Regions from separate parts of the Homo sapiens genome. Here regions 2, 3, 4 and 5 are each linked to region 1. Evidence: fine-mapped expression QTL. A gene starts in region 1. Each other region holds a variant in brackets. All regions are shown on one strand. Distances are from middle to middle. Region 1 holds the start of NBL1 (NBL1, DAN family BMP antagonist). Region 2 has its middle 19 kb from the start of MICOS10-DT. Region 3 overlaps MICOS10-DT (MICOS10 divergent transcript). Region 4 overlaps HTR6 (5-hydroxytryptamine receptor 6). Region 5 has its middle 34 kb from the start of MICOS10-DT.

Region 1 (5,000 bases):
GCTCATCAGGCTCCACAATTAGCTTTCTGCAATGTGGGAGTGGATTCTTACAAAATGTAGAACTCTACTTTCTACCCTGCTCGGGGTCTGCATGAAAGATGGCGGGGGTAAGCTTTGGCTGCAAAATGGTAAATATTTCCTGAGTGTCTACTGTGTACAGTGCAGTGAGGCTGGTTTCTGCCGTACATGGTATATAGTTATCCAACAGACACTAGCTGGCATGGGCTCTTACTGTGTGACTTTAGGCGAGTTACTTAACCTTTCTCTTGACGTTCCTTTTTTCACTTTTTTTTTTTTTTTTTGAGACAAGGCCTTGCTGGAGTGACAAGCTCATTAGGTTCCACAATTAGCCTTCTGCAATGTTGTCCAGGCTGGAGTACAGTGGCACAATCATAGCTCACTGCAGCCTCAAACTCCTGGGATCAAGTGATCCTCCAGCCTCGGGATTTTTTTCACTTTTATTATTTTATTTGTTTGTTTGTTTATTTATTTATTTATTTGAGATGGAGTCTCACTCTGCCTCCCAGGCTGGAGTGCAGTGGTGCGATCTCGGCTCACTGCAACCTCCGCCTCTCAGGTTCAAGTGATTCTCCTGCCTCAGCCTCCCGAGTAGCTGGGACTACAGGCACACGCCACCACACCTGGCTGATTTTTGTATTTTTAGTAGAGAGAGGGTTTCGCCATATTGGCCAGGCTGGTCTCGAACTCCTGACCTCAAGTGATCCTCCTGCCTTGGCCTCCCAAAGTGCTGGGATTACAAGCATGAGCCACTGCGCCTGGCACTTTTAAAACAGAGACAATACTTACCTCATAGGTTTATTGTGAGAGTGGCAACAGCTTGCAATGGGATGAGGCACATGGTAAGGTGCTCAATATGTGTGAACTATTATAACGGTCATAGTTACCATTAAGGGAAGACCTATCTGTGCTACATTAATGGGGGATAATAATTACTTTATTCGCTGGGCGTGGTGGTTCATGCCTATAATCCCAACACTTTGGGAGGCTGAGGCGGGAGGATCACTTGAGGCCAGGAGTTGGAGACCAGCCTGGGCAACATGGCAAAACCCCATCTCTACTAAAAATACAAAAACTAGCTGGGCGTGGTGGTGGGCGTCTGTAATCCCAGCTACTCGGGAGGCTGAGAATTGCTGGAACCTGGGAGGCAGAGGTTGCAGTGAGCCGAGATCACGCCATTGCATTTCAGCCAGGGCAACAAGAGCAAAATTCTGTCTCTAATAATAATAATAATAACAACAACAACAACAACAACAACAACTTCATTCAACCAAATACATTGTACATCTCACCTGGCCTGCCCATAAGCAATGGAGACACTGAAATAAACACGATTCCTGCCCTCAAGGTCTAATGGAGGAAAGAGATGTACACAGCTATTCTAGAGGGAAATTGACATGAACAGAAGTTCTCATCCTGTGCTCCAGGATCACACTGGAGGAGGGAGATGCTCCCAGAGGGTCTTGGGAAGGCTTTCCAATCTGGAGCTGGAAGAATGTTTGCCCAAGAGATGTACACAGTTATTCTAGAGGGAAATTGACATGAACAGAAGTTCTCATCCTGTGCTCCAGGATCACACTGGAGGAGGGAGATGCTCCCAAAGGGTCTTGGGAAGGCTTTCCAATCTGGAGCTGGAAGAATGTTTGCCAGAGATGAAAGGAGGGGAAGGGAATTCCGGGCAGAGGGAAGGGCGCAGGCAACAGCTAGGAGGCGCAGATGCAGGCTGGGTGTGGAGGGTGCGAGTAGGCTGGAGTACACCAGGGAGTTCCCAGCAGGCCACTAGGAGCCACCCAGGATGCCCGGCAACCTCATGAGTCAGACAAGCAGGGCTGTGTCTATCTGGAAGTTTCCAGCCAAGCTAGGTAAAACACATGGACACAGGTAACTATGCTGTAAAGCAAAATCCCCAAGTCCTACAATCGTGTCCCAGTGGTGTCCCTGGGCCACCACTTTCCAGAAGCAAAGTTATTTTCTCACCCCGTTGTTAAGCACACAGAATAGAGAAGGTACGGCCGCAATCCACCCAAGTGCCCACTGATTAGATAGGAACCCCCGAGGTGAGGCTGGAAGCTGGGGCCAGGAGCTCCACTCTTCCCAGGAGTCAGAGAAGTGAGTTCATTTGCTGGCTTTTTAGTTCCTAATAAGTCCCTGGGGCTTTTCGGGATGCTTAAGCCAAGGGCGTGGGGCCGAGAGCGACACTAGGATAACACTAGGCAAGGCTGAGCAACCCAGGCTACCAACAGCACGGACTTGAACCGGGTCGCATGCCGGAGCGGACGGGATGAGGTGCACCGCAGAACTGGGGACTCCTGGTGCCGGGACGCGGCGGGCTGGGGCGCCCCACTCTCGGGGCAAGTCTGCAATGCCCGGTGCCCACAAAAAGGACACATCCATCTTTGTCACCCCGAGGCCTGGCACGGCCTGACGGCCCAGGCTCGGTAAAAGTCGGGCGGAGAGAGTGGAAGCGCAGAGAAACCCGGGGAGGGCGCTTAAGAACGGGCCAGGGCGCCCGGCTGGGCTGCCCTGCCTCTCGGGCGCCGGCCAGGCGTCCCGGCCGCCCCACCACGCCGTCGGAGCGCGCCGAAGCTCAGCCCGGGGCGGGCGGGCCAGGAGAGGGCCCGGGGCCCCTGCCGCCGCGGCGCCCCCTCCTGCGCACCCGGAGGGAGAGGCCGCGCGCGCCCGCCCGCTCTTTCTGCGCGCGGCCCTCCCCGCTGCCCCCGCCCTCGCGCCCTGTTTGGAGGGAGCCACCCTGACGTCGGAGCCGCTCCCCCGCGCCGCGCGCCCGCCCGGGGCCGCAGACAGCGCGCAGCGCAGCCCAGCCGAGCGTCGCGGGGCCGCCCCCCGCCCTGCCGGCCGCCTCGCCGAGCCTCCTGGGGCGCCCGGGCCCGCGACCCCCGCACCCAGCTCCGCAGGACCGGCGGGCGCGCGCGGTAAGTCCCGCCCGGGTCGGCACGCGGGCGCCCGGCTTCCAGAGGCTTCGGCCGCGGGGGCAGTGCCGCGCCCCCAGCCCGGAGCTGCGTCCCCCGGCGCGTCCGGCGGCCGCGGGCACCGGGTGGAGGCGCCGCCGCCGAGCTCAGGAGCCCTGGGGGACCTGGCGGGCGCCTCCGGACGCCGGCGCTGGGGACGTGGGCGCGGCACGGGGTGGCCGGGGGGCACCGCCGCGTCCGGAGCCCGTCCCCAGACTCGCCCCAGGGTTCCGTTTCTGGATCGGAGTTTCCGCGGCCGGGGGAGAGAGGGAGCGAGGGAGGGAGATGCGTGGCCGGGCGGGCCGGGCTCGCATGTCCCCCGGCCGTGCCCGGGCCTCGCCGCGCCGCGCCTCTCGGCTCTGGACGTTTCCGCCTCCCGCGGCCCCCTCTGCTTCGGTCCCCACGTCCGTGTGTCTGTCTCTCCGTCGCTCCGTTTCCGCCGCTCACTTTCCCCTGGTCTGCCCGTCTCTTTCCGTTCCCCGCCTGCCTCCGTGTTCGGCTGCCCGCGTTTGTGTCTCTGCCTCTGGCTTTTCTCTCCCTCTCTCTGTCTCTGCGCTGCCCTCTGTGGGGGTCTCGCCCTGTGTCTGCGCCTCTCCCTGATCCCCCGCCCTCCGATCCAGACAATCCCCCAGTGTCGGAGGCTCGCCTTCCCCCAGCGGGGTTCACGAATAGTTTCCTAGACCGGGTGCGGCAAACCCTCCCCCTGCCTCCCGCCGGCCCCGAGGCCTGGCCCGGGTCATCTCCCTGGAATTGAGTCTGGGGCAGGGAGAGCCAGCCTTTCCGGGGGCTCAGTTTTCTTAAGAATTCCACCCCCGCGAGGCCGGCTGGACGACAGGCCCTGCTGCGGGCCACCTGCCCGGCCCGCTCCCAGGGCGGGGCGATTCTGATCGTTTACAAGCGGCGGCAAAGGGGGCAGCCGCCTGCCTTGGCGTGGCCGGAGGTTGGCGGGCATCAAGGGAGAAAGCCACACTTCCAGGCTTTCGGAGGCCCTCGCTCCCCAAGCTGGACGCCACCAGCCTGTAACTAGGGGCACCCCAGGAAAACAGAGGTCAGGGCTGGAGGCCAAAGACCGGGCGCTGGCGGGGAAGCAATTTGTCAACAAGGAGCCCCTCACCCTTTGTTACTGCGGAATGGGGCCTCCCTAGACTCCCCCAGATGCTGGGGCTGCTTGGGCGTGGTTTGCCTTGAGTTGGGGCCAAAGAAAAGGCGAGGCTGCAGCGTTTCCTCGGTGACCCCTACCCCTCTCCACCCACCCCTGCAAGCTGGACCTCTCTCCCGGGCCTGTGTTTTGGAGGGGTGGACAGGGGAGTAGGTGTTCTGCATCGGCCAGGGATATCGCCTCATTATTTTAAAGTGAAATTTCAGGCTGAGTTTAGCTGCTTCCCCCCACCCACAACCTCAAGGGTCGGAGGCTGCCGGAGCGGGCAGGGTTGTTGGTGAGGTCTGCAGTGGAACTTCTGCTGAGCAGATGTGCAGCCTGGCCCTGCAGCAGCTCATTAGCATGGATTTGTTTTGGAGACTGTTTTTCGTTTGCGGGCAGGAGGGTCTGCGGTAAGGAGGGCCGTGGCCTGGGTTTGGGGGCTGGCACAGAGGTGGTCAGGGCTGGAAGATGCAGGCAGGCCTGGGTGGCACGGGGTCGGCCCTGTGTGTCCGCCCTCTGGACAGTTGACTCATGCTCTCCCCAGTGCTGAAGGAAGGAAGGAAAAGCCACCCTGCCGTGAGACTGGGGTCGTGGAATCACAGCGGCCTTAAGCAGTATGCTGGAGCCAGGCTCCTCCCTGGGGGATCTGCTGAAATGGACGTTCCCAGGCCAGGCTGCCCATTTTACAGATGCAAACGTGAAGCTGAGGGGGGAAGCAAATGGTCAGTGGCTCGAGCTATAACCATTAGACTCTCCTGACTCCAGGCACACAGAAAGCCAATGTATGAGCTTTGGCCAGAACTCATCCTCAAACCCCAGAGTGAGCCCAGGAAACCCGGTTGGGCTGACCAGAGCCGGGGCCTGACCTGGGTGAG
Region 2 (5,127 bases), 66 kb before region 1:
CTGTGGTGGCACATGCCTGTAGTCCCAGCTACACGGGAGACTGAGGCAGGAGGATCACTTGAACCCAGGATCCTGGTTGAGGCTGCAGTGAGCCAAGATCCCAAGATTGTGCCATTGAACTACAGCCTGGGCTACAGAGTGAGACCCTGTCTCAAAATTTTAAAAAATAATTTTAAAAAACAAACCAAAAAAAACAGAAGAAACTGAGATTTCCCATATACCCCCTTCCCCAACTCATACACAGTGCTCCCCATTATCAATATCCGCCACCAGAGCAGTACATATGCTACAATTGATGAATCCACGTTGACACATCATTATCACCCAAAGTCCATAGGTCACATTTGGATTAACTCTAGATGTTGTACATTCTGTGGGTTTGGACAACTGTATAATGACGGCCAGATGCAGTGGCTCACACCTGTAATCCCAGCAGTTTGGGAGGCCAAGGTCGGTGGATCACTTGAGCCCAGGAGTTCGAGACCAGCCTGGGCAACATGGCAAAATCCATCTCTACTAAAAACTACAAAAATTAGCCGGGTGTGGTGGTGCGTGCCTGTAATCCCAGCTGCTTGGGAGGCTAAGGCAGGAGAATCACTCAAACCCAGGAGACAGAGGTTGCAGTGAGCCGAGATGGCACCACTGCACTCCAGCCTCGGCAACAGAGTGAGACTCTGTCTAAAAAAAAAAAAAAAAGTATAATGAAATGTATCCACCATAAAAGTATCATACAGACCATTTTCACTGTCCTAAAATCCTCTGTGCTCTGCCGATTCTTCCCTCCCTCCCCGCAACATCTGGACACCACTGATATTTTTACTGCCTCTGTCGTTTTTTTGTTTTTGTTTTTGTTTTGTTTTTGAGACAGAGTCTCACTCTGTTGCCCAGGCTGGAGTACAGTGGCACGATCTCGGCTCACTGCAATCTCCACCTCCAGTGTTCAAGCAATTCTTCCTGCCTCAGTCTCCTGAGTCACTGGGATTACAGGCGCCTGCCACCATGCCTGGCTAAATGTTGTATTTTTTAGTAGAGATGGGATTTCGCCATGTTGGCCAGGCTGGTCTTGGACTCCTGATCTCAGGTGATCCACCCACTTCAGCCTCCCAAAGTGCTGGAATTATAGGCATGAGCCACTGTGCCCAGCCTGCCTCTGTAGTTTTTTTGCCTTTTCCAGGATATCATATAGTTGAAATCATATACTATGCAACTTTTGCAGATTGGCTTCTTTCATTTAGTAATAAGCATTTAAGCTTCTTGCATTCAGCTTTAAGCTAAAGACAGATGTGTCTGAACCTCAGGATAAACAGTCCCTTTTAGGAGCATCCTGCACAGCCAAGGGGGAAAGTCAGGCTGAAGGTCTCATTAATCCACACAGCATCCCTATGCAGCTGTAAAATAGGTGGAGAGAATTGAAGTTGTCTTCTCTTTACAGATAAAGAATTTGAAGTACCAAGCACCATCGCAAGAACATCAAATGAGTACTTCCTATAGCTTTACAGTTTACAAAGGCTCTGAACTCAGGCTTTCCTGAAGGGGGCTTACTCCTCACTTTAGAAATGGCCAGTGGAGGATATAGCATCAGGCCGTTCGACCACCACAATCCCCTGAAATGACCTGAGCAGCATATTCAAGTCAGCGCAGGGGTGAGATTTAAAGTTGCCACAAGAGACCCAGAACTGTGGCTCATGCCTGTAATCCCAGCACTTTGGGAGGCCGAGTCAGGAGGATCACCTGAGGCCAGGAGTTCAAGACCAGCCTGGTCAACATGGCAAAACCCCATCTCTACTAAAAATACAAAAAATAAAAAAAAATAGTCGGGCGTGGTAGCGCGCGCATGTAGCCCCAGCTACTCGGGAAACTGAGGCAGGAGAATTGCTTGAACCCGGGAGGCAGAGATTGCAGTGAGCCGAGATTGCACCACTGCACTCCAGTCTGGGTGACAGAGTGAGATTTCATTTCAAAAAAATAAAAAAATAAAGTTGCCACAACATCCCCAGTTTGTCTCTGGAATCCTCCCAGACTACCTCGTTTTTCCACTCTGCTACTCCTTGTTCATAAATTTCTTGGTTCTCAGCTGACTTTGTTTTGGCTTTACATTACGGTTTCTATCCTCCACCCATGTCTTTGCTGGATGATCTGCTGGGCTTGACTCATTCTTCTGGCTCTCAACAACCATATGGATCCACGCCACTGCCTTTGGTCTTTGTTCTTCAATCCCCCACATTGCTCCCAAAGGGAAGAAGCAGTTCATCTGTGGGATCCACTTGATGTGTCTCACCTTTCACCAGGACCACGAGGGGCGTGGGGGCCTGCCAGCTTCAAGATGGCACAATAAAGGCATTTCTGCTACCATCTTTTAAAATCACTCCAAAATAAGCAGTACAATAAATTTAAAAATATGTATATTATTTAGGAAACCAGGAGACAACAGCAGCCCCTAATCATACTAATTGAACCAGAGAGGGAAAGGGCAACACACACCAGGTGGTTCTGATAATGGTGGGTGTTAG[G/A]GTATTTAGACTAGACCTTGAAGATAGAGAGTTCTTCAGTGTTTCTTTATTCCCAGAGCTTAGCATAGAACCTGGCCAAATCAAGTCCTCATCAAATACTTGTTGAGTGAATTACATCATTATATATATTTATATCCTATAACAGTTATCAGCACATGAAAACATTTTACTATAAGGAGAACTGTTAGAAATGTTTGCTACATTGCTAAGCGGGGCTTCCGTTCTTTCTCTTGGAGAGAGGACCCTTCTACATCCATAGGCTGAGGAAGAGAACTCTGACTAATACCTTTGCCCTGATGATTAGCATTTCATTGCTTCAATTTTTAAAACATTCACAAAATCTGCTCTTTCATTGGCTCTGTTTCAGTCGTTCATTATTTTAATGTGAACTTGGCTCTTATGGAGGTCAGGACTTGATAATTGCATTCAGCCCTTTGCAATTATTGGTAAGAAACCAGGTAAGAAACCACTGACATTTAATATTTAATTGTTTTTGATCAGCATTAATTAGTCACAGATGCACACCAGATTCCCATTTAATTAAATACTCTTGGGAACATATTTTGGGCTCAGGGATTCTAACCACATCAAAAAATAAGTGTTCAACTTTAAAAGTTGGGCCCCAGAGACCCAGGCATCCATGGAGAGGAAATTCCAGATGTCTAGCATTCTCCCTTTTCTTAGAAATAAACCTTCTACTTCTAGCCCTCTGGAATAGAAAGTCTCGGCATTTCTTTTCTCTTTTATTTTATTTATTTATTTTTTGAGATGGAGTCTCACTCTGTCGCCCAGGCTGGAGTGCAGTGGCACGATCTCGGCTCACTGCAACCTCCACCTCCCAGGTTCAAGCCATTCTCCTTCCTCAGCCTCCCAAGTAGCTGGGACTACAAGCATGCACCACCATGCCCGGCTAATTTTTGTATTTTTAGTAGAGATGGGGTTTCACCATGTTGGCCAGGCTGGTCTCAAACTCTTGACCTCATGATCCACCCACCTTGGCCTCCCAAAGTGCTGGGATTACAGGCGTGAGCCACCAGGCCCGGCCTCTTTTATCCTTTTTTTGTTTGTTTGTTTGTTTTTTTGAGACAGAGTCTTCCTCTATCGCCCAGGCTGGAGTGCAGTGGTGCGATCTCAGCTCACTGCAGCCTCTGCCTTCTGGGTTCAAGTGATTCTCCTGCCTCAGCCTCCCAAGTAGCTGGGATTACAGGCACTTGCCACCACGCTCAGCTCATTTTTGTATTATTAGTAGAGACGGGGTGTCACCATGTTGGCCAGGCTGGTCTCGAACTCCTGACCTCAAGTGATCCACCCACCTCGGCCTCCCAAGGTGCTGGGATTACAGGCATGAGCCACAGTGCCTGGCCCTCCTCTCTCTTCTTGCATCATCAGTTTTACCCTCTTTACTGAATCATTCCCATCCACATACAAACATGAGCAAGTTCTCCCATTCTAAAAAAACCCACTGTCAAACCCACCCCTTCTCAAACTATTGCCCTTTTTCGTCCCTCTTTGGAAATAAACTTCTAGAAAAGATTGTGTGCACTTGCTGCCTCCAGCCCCTCTCCTCCTAGTCTCTCTCAAACACACTGCATTTGGACTTTGGCTCCAACTACTCCATGGAGACCGTCCTTGTCAATGTCTCTAAAATTACCTTTCTGATGTTAAGACCAATGGCCACTTCTCCACCCTCTTTCATTTGGCCCAGTTAATCATGTTGTCTTTCTTGAAACACTTCATTTGGCTTCCAGGAGACCATTTTTTCTTGGTTTTCCTCCCGTCCATGTTCCTTCCTTCTCATTTTTCTTTGCTGATTTACCCTGATCTCCCTAGCCTCTAAATGTTAGGTGGTTTTAGCAATGCTTTTAACTTCCATTTGACCTCCCTATTTACTCTGCATTTCCACCTGAATGTTGGCTTAGCCTGGGTTCCTTAGACATCAGAGCCTGAGGCAAAGCTTACACACTCTTGCTCTATTGGAGAAGAAGGAGAGAAAAGGAAAGAAGGCAGGGAGTGAGGGAAAGTAAGGTGCATTGTTGAGCGAGCCAAACATTCACAAGAAAACACAGCTAGTCACTTCGTCACACAGGAACATCTCTAGAGAGGCGAGTGGAACCATAACACCTCCATGCTGCTGCATCTTGGGAAGGAGAAAGTTGGTTTCTGGCCTGCAGAAGAAAATGGAATTCATCTGTTGACTCCTCCTCTCCTGTCTTTCAATGTTAGAAGTTTATCTCTGCACTTCTAAGTTGTGTTCTCTGGCCTCTTTGGGCTGCACTGGGGATAACAGCTCCCTCAGCCCTGGCTGAGAATTTAATCTGGGCTCAGAAACAGTGGGAAGACCTGTAGCCTTTGCAATCTAATCCCCGGAGCGTTATGCACTTCCTGTTGCAGCTTATGATGGGGTCAAGCTGGGTCTGGCGCCCACCCTGGGAAAGACTGAGGCAGCCTTCCATCTCAGCAGAGGAGGCACTTGACTGTGGTGGCCACAGCTCTTCTTCTTCTTCTTCTTCCGTTTTTTTTTTTTTTTTTGAGACAGAGTTTTGCTCTTGTTTCTCAGGCTGGAGTGCAATGGCGCAATCTTGTCTCACCGCAATCTCTGCCTCCTGGGTTCCAGCGA
Region 3 (5,118 bases), 54 kb before region 1:
GGCTTGGTGGCTCATGCCTATAATCCCAGCACTTTGGAAGGCTGAGGCAGGGGATCACTTGAGCCCAGCCTGGGCAACATGACAAAATACGGTCTCCACACACACACAAAAAAATCAGGTGTGATGGTGGCTTATGCCTGTAATCCCAGCTACTCAGGAGGCTGAGGTGGGAGAATTGCTTGAGCTTGGAAAGCGGAGGTTGCAGAGAGCCAAGATCATGCCACTGCACTCCAGCCTGAGCAACAGAGTGAGACTCTGACTTAAAAAAAAAAAAAGAAAGAACGAATCTAAAGAGGTGAGTCCACAGAAAGGCCCACCTGGTAAGACAGGCATGACTACATGTGCAGAACCAGCAGTTAACGGCAGAGTGGAGACTGGGGTGCAGCTCTCATGATCTTCAATCCAGTGTGCTCCCTGCTGTGTTAGTTCTCTCACGATGTCATAACAAAGGACCACAAACTGGTGGCTTTGAAACAACAGAATTATAGTGTTTCTCAGTTCCAAAGACTGGAAGGCCAAAGTCAAGGCGTCAGCAGGACTGATTCCTTTCAGGGGACTCAGAGAGAGCATCCGTTCCATGCCTTTCTTCTGGCGCCTGGTGCTTGCTGGCGATCCGTGGTCTTCCTTGGCTTATATCCACATAAGCCAAATTATCTGCCTGTGTTGTCACAGGGTCATCTTCTCTGTTTTTGTGTTTCTTCTTCTTTTCTTATGGGGACACCAGTCTTTTTGGTTTAGTGTGCATCTCACTCCAGTATGAGCTAATCTTTTTTTTTTTTTTTTTTTTTTTGAGACAGGGTCTCACTATCGCCAGGCTGGAGTGCAGTAGTAGTGGTGTGATCTTAGCTCACTGCAGCCCTTGCCTCCTGGGCTCCAGTGATCCTCCCACCTCAGCTTCCCAAGAAGCTGGGACTATAGGCATGCACCACCACGCCTGGCTAATTTTTAACATTTTTTGTACAAACAAGGTCTCACTATATTGCCCAGGCTGGTCTCAAACTCCTGGACTCAAGTGATCCTCCCACTTCGGCCTTCCAAAGTGCTGGGATTATAGGTGTGAGCCACAGCACCTGGCCTAATTTTAACTAATTACTTTTTTTTTTTTGACACAGAGTTTTGCTTTTGTCATCCAGGATGGAGTGCAGTGGTGCAATTTCGGCTCACTACAACCTCTGCCTCCTGGGTTCATGTGATTCTTCTGTCTCAGCCTCCCTAGTAGCTGGGATTACAGGCGCCTGCCACCATGCCAAGCTAAGCCACCATGCCAAGCTAATTTTTCTATTTTTAGTAGAGAGGAGTTTCATCATGTTGGCCAGGCTGGTCTCGAACTCCTGACCTCAGGTGATCTGCCCGCCTCGGCCTCTCAAAGTGCTGGGATTACAGGCATGAGCCATCGCACCCAGCCAACTAATTACATTTTCAACAACCCTATTTCCAAATGAGGCCACACTGTGAGGTTCTAGGAAGGACATCAATTTGGGGGGACACTATTGAACCCAGCACACCTTCTTCAAGTTGGCAAGGCATCACTTTAGCAAAATGTCTCTGTCAATTTCCCTTCTCTTTCAGGGCCTCTTTGATTTGATTGGAATCCCCCAGTCCTGCTACATTATATATTCAGAGTACATGACTAGTAGCTCACTCACAGGAAAGAGCAAGCACTACCCCAATGAGATACTAGCAGACACCTACCAGACTGGCAACAATACTAAAGTATCATTACAGCCTAACTGTTGGTGAGGACATGGAGTAACAGGAATGGTCATATGCTGCTGGGGACAATGTAAATTGGTACAATCACTTTGGGATAAAGTTTGGCAGTATCAAGTGAAGCTGAAGGTATACATACCCTATCGCCCTCCTGACTTACATATTCTATAAAAATATATGCCCATTGAGCCGGGCGTGGTGGCTCACACCTGTAATCCCAGCATTTTGGGAGGCTGAGAATGGTGGATCCCTTGAGCCCAGGAATTCGAGACCAGCCTGGGCAACATAGCAAAACCATGTCTCCACACAAAAAAAATATAAAAATTAGCCAGGGATGGTGGCATGCACCACCTGTGGTTCCAGCTACTTGGGAGGCTGAGGCAGGAGGATTGCCTGAGCCTGAGGGGTTGAAGCTGCAGTAAGCCTACTATGCCACTGCACTGCAGCATGGGTAACAGAATGAGATCCTGCCTATATGTATATAAATGCCAGTGTATATCAGGATATTCATAGAAGAATGAGAAGACTTGTTGGCAACAGTCTCAAGCTGAGACCAGGCACAGTGGCTCATGTCTGTAATTCCAGCACTTTGGGAGGCCGAGGCGGGCAGATCACTTGAGGTCAGGAGTTTGAGACCAGCCTGGCCAACATAGCTGAACGGTGTCTCTACTAAAAATACAAAAATTAGCTGGGTGTGGTGGTGGGCACCTGTAGTCCCAGCTATTCAGGAGGCTGAGGCAGGAGAATCACTTGAACCTGGGAGGCGGAGGTTGTAGTGAGCCGAGGTCACGCCACTGCACTCCAGCCTGGGCAACAGAAGGAGACTCAGTCT[C/CA]AAAAAAAAAAAAAAAAAAAAGAAGCCTCAAGCTGGAAACAACCCAAATATCCATGGACAATAGACTAAATACATTGTGGACAGCATATAATGGAATATGATATAGCAACGAAAAAGAACGAACTATAGTTACATACAGAAGCATGGATACTAATGAGGAAAAGAAGCTGAATACCATAACATACAGACTGTATGATTCCAGTTAAGCAAAGTTCAAAATTAGGCAAAATTAAACTATATTGTTTAAGGATATATAACCAGGTAGCAACACTTAAAGAAAAACAAGGAAATGAATAACATAGAAGTCAAGATATACCAGGTGCTGTGGATTACTTCTATAATCCCAGCACTTTGGGAGGTTGAAATGGGAGGATCACTTGAGCCCGGGAATTCATGACCAGCCTGGGCAATACAGCAAGTCCCTGTCTCTACAAAAAGTAAAAAGCAAAAAATTAGCCAGGCATGCTGGCACGTGCCTGTAGCCCCAGCTACTTGGGAGTTGGAGGCAGGAGGCTTCGAGGCTGCAGTGAGCCTTGATTGCACCACTGCATTCCAACCTGGGCAACAGAGTGATACTCTGTCTGGGGAAAAAAAAAAAGTCGAGATAGTGGTTATGCTATCCTGCCTTGGCAAGGAGGGAGCAGTTTGGATCTGCTGAAGGAAATGCAGAGAAGGGTCTTCTGGGGTGCTAGTCATGTTCATTTTACAACAATTTGTTAAGCTGTATTTATGTTTTCTTTTGAGATGGGGTCAAGCTCTGTTGCTCAGGCTGAAGTGCAGTGGCGTGATCATAACTCATTGCAACCTTGAACTCTTTTACTCAAGCAATCCTCTGGACTCAGCCTCCCAAGTAGCTGAGACTACAGCAACTCGTCACCACACCTGACTAATTTTTAATTAATTAATGTATTTATTATTATTATTTTTTGAGGCAGGGTCTCATTCTGTCACCCAGGCAGGAGTGCTGTGATGTGATGTGATCACGGCTTATTGCAGCCTCAACCTCCGGTTCAAGCTATCCTCCCTTCTCCAAGCTATCCTCCCGCCTCTTTTTTTGATTTTTTTGTAGAGACAAGGTCTCACTATGTTGCTCAGGCTGGTCTCAAACTCCTGGACTCAAGAGATCTTCCAACTTTGGCCTCCCAAAGTGTTGGGATTACAGGCGTGAGCCACCGCACCTGGCCATGTTCTTAGCACTTTTCCGAATGCTTGGAATATTTCATACATACACATACATTAAAAAGGGGAGGGGGTCCCTGGGCTTTGGAACCAAACAAAGCAGCTATGTAGTAGATTTTGACTCTGAACACATTCCTGAAGGGACAAAATGATATAGGACCCCTCTTGGAAAAAGAAGATATGAAATACAACAAAAAAATGTGACTCTTCTTTAAGAAAGGAATTAGAGGTTTTTTTTTCCTTTTCTTTTCTCTTTTTTTTTTTTTTTTTTTGACAGGGTCTTGCTCTGTCACCCAGGCTGGAATGCTGTGGCATGATCACAGCTCACTACAACCCAGACCTCCTGGGCTCAAGTGATCCTCCTGCCTCAGCCTCCCAACTAGCTGGGACTCTAGGTGTGCACTACCACACTCAGCTATATGTTTTTATTATTTGTAGAGACAGAGTCTCCCTATGTTGCCCAGGTCGGTGTTGAACTCCTGGGCTCAACCGATCCTCCCACCTTGGCCTCCCAAAGCGCTCAGATTACAGGTGTGAGCCACTGCACCCAGCCTAAGACATTAGTTTTTAATTGAAGAGAAACCATGAAGAAAATCACTGGCATCTAAAAGACCTTTATTTATGCAGGTGCTGTGGTGTAGAACATTCTAATCTGCGACGTTAAGGAAGCTGAATTTACAACCTAGTAAACCAAACAAAGAGTTTATGTTTAGTTGATTAACCAGTTGAGGCTAAAGTCTAGCCTATTCAAGTGACAGACTTTGGTTTTTTATTTTTCTTCAATACAGTGTAAAAAGATGTTGGCTCTCTTCCTCTTACAGGAGTCTGTCTTTATTCATTTGAAATGTAAACTTCTATCTTTGTGAAACCTGTTCCAGACAATTAAGAGCAGTGCTATAATAATAATGAATTACAGAATTCCAATTAGGAGCCAAGCACTATTTTAGGCAGTTTGTAGTTACTAAATCAGTTTGGGCTGGGCGCAGTGGCTCACACCTATAACCTCAGCAGTTTGGAAGGCCAAGGTGAGAAGACTGCTTGAGCTCAGGAGTTCGAGACCAGCCTGGGCAATATGGTGAAACCCCATCTCTACAAAACATACAAAAATCAGCCAGATGTGATGGTGTGCACCTGTAGTCCCAGCTACTTGGGAGGCTGAGCTAGGAGGATCACTTGAGCCTGGGAGGTAGAACTTGCAGTGAGCGAGATTACGTCACTGCATTCCAGCCTGGGTGACAGAGACAGACTCTGTCTCAAATAATAATAATAATAATGATAATGATAAAATAAAATAGCAGGCCAGGTGGTATGTGCTTGTTGTCCTAACTACTTGGGAGGCTGAGGTGGGAGGATTGCTTGAGCCCAGGAGTTCGAGGCTGCAGTGATCTATGATAGTG
Region 4 (5,127 bases), 36 kb after region 1:
GAGGTTTGTGTGTGTGTGTGTGTGTGTGTGAGATTTCATTAGATTTTCAAAAGGCTCATGAAGTTTAACAAGTGAAGAGCACTGCTGAGCTAAAGAATGATCCAGCTCAGAGAGCCCTTTGGGACTGTGGGGGCCAGTTTGCAAAGTCAAATTCTAACCTCCCCGGGCCCATGCCTTCCTTTCAGTGGCTGCTGGGAAGTAGCTTCTTTCTCTTCCTCCCTCCTACCCCTTCCTCCTCTTCCTGTCCACTTTTGAGAATGGAGATGCCTGCCAGTTCGCAGTATAATTGAGCTATAAAATGCCAAGGTAACCAGCATCCTTAGGAGCCTATTAAGAGATTTAGCTGCAAACATTGGCTCTGTGCACACATTCTCAAAAAAGCCTTTCTATTTTGTGGGGCTCAAGAGTAATTGCCCAGGCAAGACTATTGCTCCCAAATGTGAAGACAATCCACATACAAAGCAATTGCCAAGCTCTGGACAGTAACAGGTCCTCTTTTTCAAGTACTGTTCAATTGCAATTGATTTTGTGTGTGTCTGTGTGTGTGACAGAGTCTCGCTCTGTCACCCAGGCTTGGAGTGCAGTGATGTGAGCTTGGCACACTGCAACCTCCACCTCCTGGGTTCAAGCAATTCTCCTGCCTCAGTCTCCTGAGTAGCTGGGATTACAGGTGCCTGCCACCACGCCTGGCTAATTTTTGTATTTTTAGTAGAGGCAAGGTTTCACCCTGTTGGCCAGGCTGGTCTCAAACTCCTGACCTCAAGTGATCTGCCTGCCTCGGCCTCCCAAAGTGCTGGGATTACAGGCGTGAGCCACTGTGCCCAGTCAATTGCAATTGATTTCTGTAGCGCTAAAGGCTTTGGAAGGTGCTGGGCTCATTGTAATGTGTGTGTTGGCCTGTGTCACGTATTGTCTTTGCAGGGATGGTTGTTCTTCTGAACCATCTGATTTGTGTTTCAGGTATTGCTCTGTCTCACTGCACTTCCTAGAGCTCCTTATGAAATTCTGGGTCAGGGTCAGGGCTCAGTGTGGGACCAGGATCAGAGCTCAGTCTAGGTCCACAGTTGAGGCTTGGTTTGAGAACTTGGTTATGTAGGGCTTTATGGTAGGTGTCAGGGTTCAGTGGGGGGCCAAGGTCAGGGCTTGGTTTATTGCTGATGTCAGGGCTTGGCCTGGAGTCAGGGTCAGGGCTCAGTCTAGGACTCTAGTTGGGACTCAGTCAAGGAACAGGGCCCAGTTTAATCCTGGCACTAGGGCTCAGTCTAGAATTAGGATTGAAGCTCAGTCTGTGGCTAGGATCAGGGTCAGACGGGGGCCCTTTCTCAACGGACTCATGTGGCCTTCCTTTCCGCAGGTGCCCAGGACCCCACGCCCAGGGGTGGAGTCTGCTGACAGCAGGCGTCTAGCCACGAAGCACAGCAGGAAGGCCCTGAAGGCCAGCCTGACGCTGGGCATCCTGCTGGGCATGTTCTTTGTGACCTGGTTGCCCTTCTTTGTGGCCAACATAGTCCAGGTAATGCCACGGCAGGGGGCAGGTGAGTCCGGCCCTTGCAGGAGAGGCCCTGGATCCCAGCCCAGGCATGGGGACAGGGGAGGGTAGGCTGCCTCTCGTGGTGCGTGTGTGTGTGTGTCTGCTCCATACATGCTGGGAAGGGTGGCCTGGGTCCCTGCCCTGGGACCAGGCATGATGCATCCCCTCCCCCCAGGCCGTGTGCGACTGCATCTCCCCAGGCCTCTTCGATGTCCTCACATGGCTGGGTTACTGTAACAGCACCATGAACCCCATCATCTACCCACTCTTCATGCGGGACTTCAAGCGGGCGCTGGGCAGGTTCCTGCCATGTCCACGCTGTCCCCGGGAGCGCCAGGCCAGCCTGGCCTCGCCATCACTGCGCACCTCTCACAGCGGCCCCCGGCCCGGCCTTAGCCTACAGCAGGTGCTGCCGCTGCCCCTGCCGCCGGACTCAGATTCGGACTCAGACGCAGGCTCAGGCGGCTCCTCGGGCCTGCGGCTCACGGCCCAGCTGCTGCTTCCTGGCGAGGCCACCCAGGACCCCCCGCTGCCCACCAGGGCCGCTGCCGCCGTCAATTTCTTCAACATCGACCCCGCGGAGCCCGAGCTGCGGCCGCATCCACTTGGCATCCCCACGAACTGACCCGGGCTTGGGGCTGGCCAATGGGGAGCTGGATTGAGCAGAACCCAGACCCTGAGTCCTTGGGCCAGCTCTTGGCTAAGACCAGGAGGCTGCAAGTCTCCTAGAAGCCCTCTGAGCTCCAGAGGGGTGCGCAGAGCTGACCCCCTGCTGCCATCTCCAGGCCCCTTACCTGCAGGGATCATAGCTGACTCAGATATCGTGTTCTGAAGGATGCTCCACTGTTGAGTGTAACTTGTGTGTGCAGAGGATGGGCTGGAGGACTCTGGATGTTGGGGAGAAGGACCTCTTGGTTCAGGTTAGGATGAAAACAATCATGACCTTTGCCCATTCTGTCAGGCTGGACGGGAGGGAATGCCCCCACCTGCAGGCATGGATTAATGCTGGGCTGAACCCCTTGCTACTCACAGTGTAGTCCATGGACAATCGGCATTGCCGTCACCTTTGGGAGTTTGTGAAAAATGCACATCTCTGCCCCTGCCCAGACCTGCTGAGTCAGAACTGCATGTTACCAAGATCCCAGGTGAATCATGTGCCCATTACAGTTTGAGATGTGCTGCCTTAGATCATCTTTAACCCTCAGAATGATTTGCTGGATGGTTTTTGGACCTGTCAGTCTCCCCTCCCTGGTATATATGTGGCAGCAGCTGCACCTGGGAGGCAGGCAGGCATGCATGTGGGCCTCTGCTCTACCACCTATGAGCTCTGGGGCCTGACACGAGTTA[T/C]TTAACCTCTCCGAGCCTCGGTTATCCCATGTGTAAGGTAGAGAAATGATGCCTATCTTGCAGGTTGTCTTGAGAATTAAGACAATGTGTGCCCAGCACCCAGTACACGGTCAGTTAATTGGTACGTTCTGTTGTTACGACCCCCGGCTATCCAGCCCCCTGGCCTCTCCGGCTGTGTGTCAGGAAGGGCTCTTTGCTCCCGTTGTTCTCTTTCCATTTGCCTCCCCCTCTTCAGCCCTGGCCTAGCCTCCCAAAGCCTGACTCTGGTTCCCCAACTCCCTGTTCTGGCTCCTGGGTGGGGACCCCATCTCTCAGGGACCCTCCCAGCTCCCAAGCTGCTGCCCTGCCTTTCCTGGGGGCAAAAGGGGCAGGTGGCAGTTTCTTTTTCAGCCTCAGAACTGGTTTTCCTCAATCCTGGGGGGTCCTTGGACCTAGAAGGGAACAACTGATGGGGATAAACCCAGCCCCTTGCCCACCTGCCTCTGGCCTTCCCTGGGGTCAGTGAGAGAAATGGGAATGGTAGCTACTTGGGTCAGCAGAGTAGAGTCAAAGAGCTGTTCCTGGTGTGAGGTGGGGCCCACGAGGCAGGCAGGTGGACTCTGGCACAGGGGCCTTGGTTTCTGGGGGCAGGGGGTTGGGGAACTCTTGGTCGCCAGTTTACCTGCCATAGGTCCCTTTTCAGCCCTGCCTCCCCCAAGTTCCATCAACACAAACTCCCAGGGGGTCCTCCATGCCTGGCCTGGCCCTCTCCTTGGTGCTGATGAGACACAACTCTGGCCCCGGCGGCTGGCCTCTGAGGGGCCATGGTGCTTGCGGGGCTTCCCCTATCCCCCAGGTCTGCCCAAGGGGACTCTCAATAAACTCTAGCTGAAGGCAGTGGCTGTGGTGTGGACTGGATTCAACTGAGGGGCCACTCGGGGCTTGAGAAGCAGCTGGTGTCGTGGGGAGGCCTGGGTGTAGGTGTCCTGGGTTCTGGTCCAGATTCTGCCCCTTCAATCTGGGACCCCAGAAAAATCCTTTCCCCTTTCAGAGCCTCCATTTCCCATGTATGACATGAGCAGCTTAGTTTAAAAGCAACAAGAGTTGCATAAATACTTGTTTTTAAATTTTGTGTTTTAAGAGTTGGAGTTGGCTGGGCATGGTGGCTCATGCCTGTAATCCCAGCACTTTGGAAGGCTGAGGTGGGTGGATCATCTGAGGTCAGGAGTTGGAGACCAGTATGGCCAATATGGTGAAACCCCATCTCTACTAAAAATACAAAAAATTAGCTAGGCGTGGTGGCAAGTGCCTTAATCCCAGCTACTCAGGAGGCTGAGGCAGGAGAATCCCTTGAACCTGGCAGGTGGAGGTTGCAGTGAGCTGAGATCATGCCATTGCACTCTAGCCTGGTGACAAGACAAGACTCCGTCTCAAAAAAAAAAAAAAAAAAGAGTCAGAGTCTCACTCTGTCACCCAGGCTGGAGTGCTGCAGCACAATCATAGCTCACTGCAGCCTCGAGCTCCTGGGCTCAGGTAATCCTCCTGCCTCAGTCTCCTGAGTAGTTGGCAGTGGCTAATTTTTTTATTTTAATTTTTTGTCAAGACTGGGTCTCGCTATGTTGCCCAGGCTGATCTCCAACTCCTGGCCTCAAGCAATCCTCCCACTTTGGCCTCCCAAAGTGCTGAGATTACAGGCGTGAGCCATAAATGTGTGTCGAATGAACAAATGAATACACACGCACCTGAGCAGGGATCTGGCTCCTATGTTCTACGACTCTAATTTTTGCTGCCCTCCTCCCACCTCCCCCAGAGCTTGTCAATCCTTCCTCTGCCTGGGCCTTGATTTCTCCATCTGCACAACAAGGGTGCATTATCTCTGGCCCTGCCATTCAGGGACTGTGGGAGGAACAAAGAGGAAAGCTCTCACGGATGCAGACCCAGTGGCTTGGGACTTGGGCATTAGAGTCTGACATACAGGGGCCTGGAACTTGGCTCCATCGTTAACCAGCTGTTTGGCCTTCAGCAGGTTACCTGATCCCTCTGAGCCTCAGTTTCCCCAAATATAAAATGAAGATAATAATAGTCCCTACCTCATAGGATTGCTGTGAATTCCAACTGACACAACCCAGGCAACCACTTGGTATGTGGTACATGCTCAAGAAGTGGTAGCTTCTTCTTATTATTATTTATTGCTGTTGTTATCCCCTCTGTTCCTGCTACAGGAAATTCTTTCCATGTAAAATTCATTCTTGTCCCCAGGCCTAGTTCAC
Region 5 (5,127 bases), 81 kb before region 1:
GCGGTGAGCCGAGATTGCGCGATTGCACTCCAGCCTGGGCAACAAGAGCGAAACTCCACCTAAAAAAAAAAAAAAAGTCTTTTTACTTTTCATGGTAATAGTTATTTGCACATGTTCAGCAGGACTATGTCCTCCTTCTTACCAGGACAAATGGATTAATTGTAGCCAAGGCCTCACTTGGAGCATCATATCTGAGAATGGTGCTCACTAAATCAGGTGTGACAGGGCATTTTAAGGGATAAAATTTGTGTTAATACTTACGGAACACACGCCTACAAAGGTCTCCATGAAAACTGGCTTGGGGCCAGGTGCGGTGGCTCACACCTGTAATCCCACCACTTTGGGAGGCCAAGGCAGGCAGATCACCTGAGGTCAGGAGTTTGAGAACAGTATGGCCAACATGGTGAAACCTCATTTCTACTAAAAATATAAAAATTAGCCAGCTGTGGTGGCGGTAATCTGTAGTCCCAGCTACTGGGCAGGCTGAGGCAGGAGAATAGCCTGAACCGGGGAGGCGAAAGTTGCAGGAGCTGAGGTCGCACCACTGCACTCCAGCCTGTATGATAGAACCAGACTCTGTCTTAAAAAAAAAAAAAAAAAAGGGCCGGGCGCGGTGGCTCACGCCTGTAATCCCAGCAGTTTGGAAGGCTGAGGCGGATGAATCACCTGAGGTCAGGAGTTCGAGACCAGCCTGACCAACATGGAGAAACACCATCTCTACTAAAAATACAAAAAAAAAAATTAGCCGGGCATGGTGGCGCATGCCTGTAATCTCAGCTACTCTGGAGGCCGAGGCAGGATAACTGCTTGAATCTGGGAGGCGGAGGTTGTGGTGAGCCAAGATCGTGCCATTGCACTCCAGCCCGGGCAACAACAGCGAAACTCAGTCTCAAAAAAAAAAAAAAAAAAAAAAAAAGAACAAACAAAAAAAACAAAAGTGACTTGGTACCTGATTTACAGATATTAAAGACAGTCACTTCCTGGAAGGCCAGGAACTTTATGATATTCAGAGAACAAAAAAAGAGAAGAATTCACTCAGATATACAGGTTTGACAGGTGAAAGAAATTTTGTGGGAAGCGTCTTGAGCTGGGTGTCTTAACTTTGAAATAACAAATAATAGAGCCTTTTACGATTCCAGCTGGGAAAAGAATAAAGATTCCAATTGGAGATTCCTTATGAAAACTTCTAGACAAAAGCTAATTTTGTAATTGTTTGAAACGACATGGCTGTAAATTTTGTGAAGCACATTTAGGAGGCCTATACGACAAATTAATATTTTTTTTTCTTTGAGACAATGTGTCATTCTGTCGCCCAGGCTGGAGTGCAGTGGCGCAATCATGGCTCACTGCAGCCTCAACCTCCTAGGCTCAGGTAATCCTCCCACCTTAGCCTCCTTAGTAGCTGAGACTACAGGTGTGTGCCACCATGCCCAGCTAATTTTTTGTATTTTTTGTAGAGAAGGGGTTTCACGATGTTGCCCAAGCTAGTCTGGACCTCCTGGGCTCAAGTGATCCATCCACCTCGGCCTCCCAAAAGTGCTGAGGTTACAGGCATGAGCCACCATGTCTAGCTGACAAATTAACTCTCTTGCTGTACCTACATAAACAATCAGACCACATCTAATGAGAACAGTCAATTTTTAAATCAAGAGTCATTTTTCTTTAAGATTATAATGATCCTAAGGGGTTGGGGAGATCATAGGGACAAATTAGAAAAACCTCGACATTCAGTGGGTGTCCTGACTAGCTCAACCCATAGGATTATTTTTGGCCCTTCATTGTCTTTGAGCTACTTTATAGCTCTGTATCTTGTAGAAAGCTGTCAGTAAAACAAATTGTTCTTTTTTTTTTTTTTTTTTTTTTTTGAGATGGGAGTTTCACTCTTGTTGCCCAGGCTGGAGTGTAATGGTGCGATCTTGGCTCACCGCAACCTCCACCACCCGGGTTCAAGCGATTCTGCTGCCTCAACCTCCCGAGTAGCTGGGATTACAGGCATGCACCACCACACCCAGCTAATTTTTGTGTTTTTAGTAGAGACAGGGTTTCATCATGTTGGTCAGGCTAGTCTCGAACTCCTGACCTCAAGTGATCTGCTGCCTCGGCCTCCCATAGTGCTGGGATTACAGGCATGAGTCACTGTGCCCGGCCTGGTTCTTGTCCATAGAAATGCAACTTGTGTCCGGTAGAATGAAATTAATTATTGCCTTGTGGATATCAACCAACTTTGCCAGTTTCGTACCTAATCTGTAAGTTCACTTCCCTGTTCCTTACGCGACTATAACTGTGAGATATTTTGAACTAGTCGTAACATCTTATCAATTCCCTCATTACTTAATGTGTTCCACAAAATCTTTGATATGGGTTCATTTAATATCTGTATGAAAGTCATAATTTT[A/G]TTGTTTTTGAAAATTACCCCTGGACTTAATATATATAAGGTGCTTAGAATAGGGTCTGGCACCAAGTATGGACTCAGTAAATGTTAGCTTTTGTAAGTAACGGATTAATAACATCCCTTGTTTTATAGATGAACAGAATGAAGTGCAGAGGAGACAAGCACATTTGCTTAAATGGCACTGCTTGCTGGAGATGGAGCAGGAGCTAGAAGCCAAGTCTCTGCTATCAAGCCCCTGCTTTCTTGCTGCCACCCCCGCCCCACCCCTCTCCTACCCACAGTCCTCTCTGGCTGTGCTTTGCTGACCCTACACATTCTTTGGGTTTCATTCTGGATCCTTCTAGGCTAGGTTAGCAGCCCCAACCCCAACCTTTGTGTCTTCCCCTGTGAAGCTGGTATTGTAAATATATTGCAACTATCAATTTCTTCATCTAGGCCAGGTGAACTACTGGCTCATGCCTGTAATCCCAGCACTTTGGGAGGCCGAGGTAGGAGGATGGTTTGAGGCCAGGAGTTTGAGACCAGTCTGGGCAGGATAGTGAGACCCCACCTCTAAAAAATAAAAAAAGAAAATCATCTTCATCTAAGCCATGAGCCACACACAACCAAGGACCGAAACTGTCTTGATTGCCACCCAGCCTGGCACACAGCAAGTAGAAACACCAGAAGTGAGGCCTCATATAGGTGTGGTGTTCTCTCCCCTGGGGATGGGGAGCAGGGCTGCTTTCCAGAACTGACTGGAAACCCTCTGCTCCTCCATCCTCTGACGGCCCAAAACTCCCCCAGGCTCCTGGCAGCTCTAGGCAATATCAAGCCTCCTAGAGAGGATGCCTGGAGCCACTAGCCTCTCAAGACTTGAGTTTCTGTTTTGTTTTTTTCCAAATAAAATTCCAGAAATCCAGGTTTAAAAATAACCAAGCAATGCAATCTTCTCCACCAAGCTGCTTGGCAAAAACAAACCCTCAACAAAGACTAGTGTGCAGTCTCACTTCACACTTACTCATTTTCGGCCGCCAACTCAGCTCTGTTTTGGGTGGGGAGGAAAAGCGGGAGGCAGGACTCCCAGGGGCAGAAGCGCAAGGGCACAGGCGCTGGGCAGAAGCTGGGCTGGACCGTAGGGCCGCCCCGGCTTTGCAGGCACACACCCGTTTGGGAAGACAGCTGCTAGAGACTGCTGCGAAGTCCGGTTTTCCTTGGAGTCCCAACTTGCTGGTCTCCAGCCCTGGATCTGGCAAGAGATCAAAGCAGCCCTGGAAAATGGTCTCCATTCGTAATCCAGAATTCATTCTCCTTCCCCGGGGAGACATCAGCTTCTGCCTGAGCCTGCCTTTCCCCATTATTACTTAGGGAACTGGCCGGTCATAATGGGGAGCAGCATTTATGCTCTTGCGGAACAACAACCTCAAGACTCCCCACTTTTTTTGACATGGTCTATTTTCTAACCTGTCATCCTTTTTTTAAGGCCCATTTTGTGGGTGAGAAAAACGTGTGATGGAAGAGAGGAAATTCAGGACCAGAGGCCTGGAAAACTGTCAGATTTCATATTTCCTCCTCCTTTGAATCAGCATTAATGCCCCTCAATGGGGTTTTCCTGCAAATGCTTGTATAACTCCCTTTTAAAACAATTTTTGCTGTTTTTTCCTTTCCCTGCCCCTGGGTAAGTTATTCCAACTGACTACTTTCCACCTCAAAAGAAAGTAGTGGACAGGAAAAAAGTGGTCGTGTGGTCTGTTGGCTACAGCTCCAAGTGGAGCCAGGAGATTTGGGTTCTATTCTGAGCCTTTCTGAGAACATGACGAGGGGGAGGGACACAAACTTGGCTCTTTTACTGGAGTCCAGGGACTCCATGCCAACAGGAGGAAGTTACTTATTCCGGATCAGAAGGGGACCAGGAACTGGCATTTATTAAACACCTGCAAAGCGCCACGCCCTTGACCAACTAGCTCTTTTTTTCTTTTTTCTTTTTTTTTTTTGAAATGGGATCTTGCTCTGTCACCCAGGCTGAAGTGCAGTAGCGCAATCACAGCTCACTGCAGTCTCTGCCTCCCAGGCTCAAGCAATCCTCCCACCTCAGCCTCCCGTGTAGCTGAGACTACAGGCATGTGCCACTGTGCCTGGCTAATTTTTTTGTATTTTTTGTAGAGATGGGGTTTCATCATATTGCCGAGGCTGGTCTCCAATTCCTGAGCTCAAGTGATTTGCCCACTCACCTCGGCCTCCCAAAGTGCTGGAATTACAGGCATGAGCCACCATGCCTGGCCCCAAGTAACTGTCTCTCTTTTTTTTTTTTTCGAGATGGAGTCTTGCTCTGTCGCCCAGGCTGGAGTGCAGTGGCGCAATCTCAGCTCACTGCAAACTCTGCCTCCTGGATTCAAGCGATTCTCCTGCCTCAGCCTCCTGAGTACCTGGGATTACAGGCATGCGCCACCACACCTGGCTAATTTTTGTATTTTTAGTAGAGATGGGGTTTCACCATGTTGGTCAGGCTGGTCTCGAACTCCTGACCTCATGATCTGCCCACCTCGGCCTCCCAAAGTGCTGGGATTACAGGCATGAGCCACCTCACCTGGCCTCTAACTAGCTCTCTTAATCCTCACAACTTTGCGGGTTAGCTTCTGTAACTTCCTTGTTACAGACTGGGACCCGGAAGCTCAGAGAGATGCAGTGAGTTCCTCAGGGTAGCACAGCTTGTTGGTGCTAGAGCTGGGAACAGAGTCCAGCTCTGGTTCTGGGGT

Evidence for each region. PIP is the estimated chance that this variant, and not a neighbour inherited with it, causes the effect.
Region 2: its variant is fine-mapped to the expression of NBL1 in whole blood (TOPMed, PIP above 0.99).
Region 3: its variant is fine-mapped to the expression of NBL1 in whole blood (TwinsUK, PIP 0.95). The same link has a PIP of 0.9 or more in CD4 T cells.
Region 4: its variant is fine-mapped to the expression of NBL1 in gastroesophageal junction (GTEx, PIP 0.96).
Region 5: its variant is fine-mapped to the expression of NBL1 in whole blood (INTERVAL, PIP above 0.99).

The regions. Positions count from the first base shown.
Region 1 is chr1:19,641,499-19,646,498 of GRCh38, forward strand. NBL1 (NBL1, DAN family BMP antagonist) reads left to right here and starts at 2,813. Exons shown (of 4, transcript NM_005380.8): 1 at 2,813-2,948. The region is part of intron 1 of MICOS10-NBL1 (MICOS10-NBL1 readthrough); the gene reads left to right. RefSeq lists an enhancer at 1,825-2,660 and a silencer at 2,559-2,898.
Region 2 is chr1:19,575,072-19,580,198 of GRCh38, forward strand. No RefSeq gene overlaps it. Among named protein-coding and RNA genes, the nearest start is that of MICOS10-DT, 19 kb to the right of the region's middle. The variant G/A (reference allele first, on the strand shown) is at 2,511.
Region 3 is chr1:19,587,483-19,592,600 of GRCh38, forward strand. MICOS10-DT (MICOS10 divergent transcript) reads right to left here. Exons shown (of 2, transcript NR_135054.1): 2 at 4,320-4,403. Among named protein-coding and RNA genes, the nearest start is that of MICOS10-DT, 6.8 kb to the right of the region's middle. The variant C/CA (reference allele first, on the strand shown) is at 2,543.
Region 4 is chr1:19,677,213-19,682,339 of GRCh38, forward strand. HTR6 (5-hydroxytryptamine receptor 6) reads left to right here. Exons shown (of 3, transcript NM_000871.3): 2 at 1,355-1,513; 3 at 1,707-3,754. The coding sequence ends at 2,156. TMCO4 (transmembrane and coiled-coil domains 4) reads right to left here. Exons shown (of 16, transcript NM_181719.7): 16 at 5,028-5,127. Among named protein-coding and RNA genes, the nearest start is that of HTR6, 15 kb to the left of the region's middle. The variant T/C (reference allele first, on the strand shown) is at 2,879.
Region 5 is chr1:19,560,383-19,565,509 of GRCh38, forward strand. No RefSeq gene overlaps it. Among named protein-coding and RNA genes, the nearest start is that of MICOS10-DT, 34 kb to the right of the region's middle. The variant A/G (reference allele first, on the strand shown) is at 2,396.